Regions from separate parts of the Homo sapiens genome. Here region 2 is linked to region 1. The links come from fine-mapping of genetic effects on gene expression. Tissue or cell type: B cells. Region 1 holds a variant in brackets; the other region holds the start of a gene. All regions are shown on one strand. Distances are from middle to middle.

The links. PIP is the estimated chance that this variant, and not a neighbour inherited with it, causes the effect.
Region 2: it holds the start of LINC01522, and the variant in region 1 is fine-mapped to the expression of LINC01522 in B cells (Schmiedel 2018, PIP 0.95).

What each region holds. Positions count from the first base shown.
Region 1 is chr20:48,369,941-48,372,624 of GRCh38, forward strand. It overlaps LINC00494 (long intergenic non-protein coding RNA 494), which reads left to right. Exons shown (of 5, transcript NR_026958.1): 5 at 1-698. Among named protein-coding and RNA genes, the nearest start is that of LINC00494, 11 kb to the left of the region's middle. The variant A/AGT (reference allele first, on the strand shown) is at 1,137.
Region 2 is chr20:47,988,728-47,991,411 of GRCh38, forward strand. LINC01522 (long intergenic non-protein coding RNA 1522) reads right to left here and starts at 1,390. Exons shown (of 3, transcript NR_110027.1): 1 at 1,288-1,390; 2 at 1-15. All of the region lies in intron 1 of LOC107985436 (a long non-coding RNA gene), which reads left to right.

The DNA.
Region 1 (2,684 bases):
TACTAGAGAAATGATGAAGAAAAAGAATAGGCTGGAGAGTCACTCAAAATTTTGTTTTCCTCAATTAAAAAGAAGTAATTTAGAAGTTACTCAATGATGTTTTCTTTAATTAAAAAAAAAAGTAGTTTGGGAAAGCAGAAAATTAATGAAGACAGAAAACACAGGTTTCATGAAAAAGTTCAGCATCCCAGGAAAGGAGCAAAGAGAAGTCTGCAGATGAGAGTTGCTCAGTGTCAGGACTCAGAAAACAATACCCCAAGATAATGTTCAAACCTGAGTGCTTTGAACAAAGGATATTGAAAGACCTCAGAAGAGGGCCTCAGAACTCACATGTCTCTCTGACCTTCTCCTGTCTCTCCTTCACTTCCAAAGCATGATCTTTGGCCAGGGGATCTCTCTGGGATTCCCTTATCTGCCTGAGGGATGTACTTCCAAAAGAAATGTGACTGGCATGACCTCCTCCCTAGGAATCTCTTCAAACAGCCGGGAAAGACTGGTCACCTGAGAGGAGATTGGAAGTCCTCACTGCACTCAGAAAGGCTGTTGTCCATTCTTCTAGAGACTTTATCTGAATAACAAGGCAACTTTTGTTTACCATTCAGTTCCTCCCCTTTCCTTTCTAACTTGTCACCACCTCCCCCAAAAGCCTCAAGCCTCCACTCCTACAAGCTATAAAGACTTCAACCATCTGGCTTCTCCATGAGTCTCATGTTTTGTGTGGCTCTTAGGCATATGTGCATGGTAATACATGTGTATGCCTTTCCTCCGGGTAATCTGTTTATTGTCAGTTTAAAGCAGCCACAGAGTTAAAGACGGAAGCCTTCAGAAGGCTTTCCCTTTGCCCCTGCATCCATCACCTGAGAGCCCACCCATGACAGACTTGAACTATGGACAGAGGCTGCAGTCAATAGAGCCCAGGGTGAGACTGACTACAGGAGAAGCTGGGCCTTGGGGGATAAGCCCAAGCTTCTCAATTCTCAAACTGCAGGTTAAGCCTCTATAATGGAGCCTGAATTCCATTCAGTGAGTCTTGACCAGCATTTTAAAATGTGAAATAACAGAACTCAGTAGAAAATATCAAAGGGCATTACTTATAGTGAGGTAAGAATATTCTGCGAAATTTTAGTTTTATATTG[A/AGT]GTGTGTGTGTGTGTGTGTGCACGCGCACGCCAGGCCTTGTTGTAAAATATACTTCTTATAATGGGTTGTGTTCAAAACAGCTTGTAAAATATGGGAGCAGATGAAATGATGGAGGATTTGGTAAGAACTAAATATTTGTAAGCAAATTTTGCAGTGAAAAGAACAAGGAAATTATTAATTCAAGAGAAATCAAAAGTAGTATAAGAAAGAAAATGCAACCATATTGCCATACTTGGCTCTGCTGTAAATAACATCTACTTGGCCACATGACATAAATGCTGATTATGATGATGTCATTGAAAACGGTAATTTAGCCATGCAGGAGGCTGTGAGTTATGGTGGCAAGTGGAGGAAGAGAGCTAATCCCTCCTCTGGGGGCCGGCATTGAGAGATCACAGAGCAACTTGAATCCCCGTGAAGCACTTGCTCTTACAAGATTTGGAAGAAACTTGCACAAACAGTAAAGTGTCTTTACTTGTGGATGTCTCTGGGAAAAGATGGGCAGGGAACAGAAAGATTCAACGGTGTTTGATTTGGTGACCATATATCTCTTTAATTTAAAAAGGGATCATTCAGGACCAGTGAGGCCATGGTGGTGTTCATTGGAAAGAGCCCAGGGACCCAGGTGGCTCTTGGCTCCATCACCTAGAACCCCATGCCCTTGAACGAGTCCCTCTCCAGCTTTTGACACCAGTTGGCCAACCTCTAAAACAAAGAGGCCAGGCCAAATTATTTTGACTTGTCCTTGGAGCCCTGTGAGTCTGTCTCACCACGGAGTGACTTGGGAGTCTGGGTACCACCCACCCTGACTCCATGTCAAATACCGTGCACATCTCAAGCACAGTGCCTGGCTCAGCACAGGCAGCAGGAAAGCTGTGTGGGTGTGCATCAGGGTTGGTGGACACAGTAGACAGCCTTTGCTCTCCCAAGATGGGGGAGGTCCGGTACCATGACTTAGGGAACTGCTGGTTCCTAACCAACCCCCCCACCCACCCCGGACAGTAGTGCAGAAAGGATGCTTTCCTAATCAGCTAATTTTCACAAAATGTGGGATGCCCTGGTGGGATCCCGTGGTAGGAGAGTAGATGACTTCCAGGAGCACATAGAGGGGGCAGAGGCTGCGGGCTGACCCTTGATACCCCTCATCCCCTTCATTTAACATTAGAAATCCCAAAGTTTAGTTGCCTGGACCGGAACTGAATTTCCCATCCTGCCTTGCAGCTGGTGTGTACCTTCCCAGTGTACCCTTAAATGCATGAGTACGCCCCACTTACCCTTTTCCTCTTCCCTCCTGCCTGATGTGACTTGCACCTCCTTGGACCAGGTGGACAAGAAAAGCCTCCGTCAATGACAGAGCCCAAGATGGGCAGGTCGAGGATCAGCCCCGGGAGCCGCCCAACTAGCTCGCCCCTCGCCCCCGCCCCCCAGCCCCCACAATCCCCCGATGGCGAGGCTGTCATGTGGGAGAAAAGCAAACCTCTGGTTCATGAAATTGCAGGTATTTGGAGCCTCTGCACAAGCTAGTGAACTTGTATATCAATAAGTAG
Region 2 (2,684 bases), 380 kb before region 1:
TCCAGCATCACCAGCCTGTGTCCAGAACAGAGGAAGGGAAGGAGAGCTGGGAGATTTTTCTCCTGTGTGGCTTGGGAAGGCTTTCCCGGAAGCCTCTAGTAGATGTCTCTTAGGTCCCATTAGCTATTAATAGAACTGGATGACAGGCCTACTCGCAAACCAATCACAAGCAAAGGGGAGAGGATTACTGTGATTGGCTTTGAACCACTGACCAATCACTTTGCTCTGCTTAGGGCTGAGGCAGGGCCACCTTCCTTCAGCACATTGTTTTCTACTGGAGGGGTGAACAAAAGTGTGGCTCTGTTACCAAGGAAGAAAGGAAAGTGGTTGCTCAGTGTCTGCTGTGAACCTGGCTGTCCCTATGTGTCCTCTCTCCTCTGTGTATGTGTGTGTGTGTGTGTGTGTGTGTGTGTCTTGCAAACATCAGTGCACAACACACCACAGTCCCATAATTCAGTGGAGTGTGTATCTGCTCGGCAGACTCCACTGTCCCCACAGTCAGGGTCCAGGCACTAGAAGGTATGTGGCAGGAAGGTAGAGGAAGACCCAAGCCACAGACCCCCATCCAACTTCGAGTGCAAGCAATGGAAACCGACTCTGGATTCCTTGATTTAATTTTTTGAAGACATTTATAGGAAGAAATGGGTTAAGTCTGTAGGAAAATTAAATATGAAGAGCCAGATTCACGGGGCTTGGGGACATCAGGGCAGCTCCTGGGTCCTCTGTGTGGCCATCATGGTGAATCCACTCATGTGTCACTGTTCACCATTCAGGTCCCCACAGGAGGACAGGATGGTCCTGTCTTGGCCACATGTTACCCCCTGGACTCAGGGACAGTGTTGTCATTTGACTGAAAGTCCCTCCTCACCACAAGGACAGGGATGGGGAGTTTCTCAGCGGAAGCCCAAGGATTTGCTTAGGCCTGGAGAGCAAACCCCACACGCCCTCCACACATCACCTGCACAGACGCCCCTCCAGCTGAGCCAGCCTGCTCACTACCCCTCAGACAGTCTTCCCTCCCATCCTTGCTTGTGCTGGGACCCCTCCTGGAAGGCTCCCCTCTCCTGCCTGCTCTTCTAACTTTCATGATCCTTCAAGACTCTAGTTAAGCCACCCTCCTCCTCCAACAAGCACCAGCCATTGCTGCTGCTGTGTCGAGGTTTCTGAACCTCAGCATTATTGACATTTTGGGCTGGGCAGTCTCTGTTGTGGGACTGTCCTGCACATTGTACAGGATGCTTACAGCATCTCTGGCCTCTACCCAGTAAATGCCAGTTACACCTTTACCTAGTCGTGACAACCAAAACTGTGTCCAGACATTAGCAAGTGTTCCCCGGAGGGGACAACTGCCCCTGGTTGAGAGCCACTCCTTTTCTGAACCTGAGTCACTAAGATTTACTGCCATAGCAACTTAATTACATTGTGATGTTTACTTAACTTCTCACTGCTGCTTATTACTTTGGCAGACTGCAGCCAGCCAGAGAACAGCCAGGTTAACCCATACGGTGGCCCCACACTAAGTTGTCTCCCACACCGTGTAGGGATGGCTCAGTGCACAGGGAGCATGGTGGGGTTTGGGCTTGATGGCTTTGAAGCCTCTGCTAGACTGGGAGGCACACAGTTTGGTACCATGTCTGGATGCAACGTCATGTTCCTGAGGCAGGATGGTGCTTGTGTACCGAAGACAGTCTTGCTGGCTGCGGTGAAGGACAGAGCTCTCGGTGGATCCAGTGGGAACCAAAGCCTGCTGTAACCCTCCAATAGTAACAGCCATCCGCTCAACCTCTGGGCCCAGGCACGCCTCACAGGAGCTCTCTACGGGCACTGTCTCATCCATAATGAATTAGGTATCAGTGTCTGGTTTTTAGAGATTCGGAAACTGAGGCCAGAGCATTCTAATGTCCTAAGCACATTCATGGTGAGTAGGAGCAGAGCTGGCTTCCACCTGCAGGGTCTGAGTCTAGGGTCAGTGCTCATAGCCACGATTCTCGTAGGCTACCCAGGCCCACTGTCTCCTTGAGCACCCATGTGCCCCATGCAGCATGTAACTTGTAGGAAATGAAGGCGTTTGCCAGCCTTTGCCTGTGTCCAGTGTGAACTCATCTCCTATTTAGCACAAAGTTATTACATTAGAGTTACTGATTTAGTGGATACATCACTTTACTCTGTCATCTTGACAGCGATAAGATCTGCATTTTGCTCACTTCTGGATCACGCAATCTAGCAGAATTCTTCATGCATGGCAGGAACTCATCATTATTTGCCTCATTTAATTGAATTGTATTATGGTTCTGTGGACACTTCATCACACCTAACAGTGTTTTGCACAAAGCAATTGTTAAAAAATACTTTTCAAAGGGCTAAATGTTTGATCAATCAATAGGTTTTTAATTGAGCATCCTTACAAGTTAATATCATAAAGTGATGATAAAAGTGTTTTTATTACTGTGTGTTGGTTACCCGGATTAAATGTTTCTTGAAGCCTCAGAGTGCATGATGATTCAGTTCTTCTGATTTTAAGCTCGGATCTATTCAGTGACGAGATATGCAGGTCTGGAAGCCTCTGAAATTTATAATGTGGATGCTGAGAACCCATGATGCTGGTGGCCAATTTTGAAAATTGTTACAGAAATTTATATTCATTAGACATGATGGCAAGTTCTGGAATGGTATTCTGCAGAGTC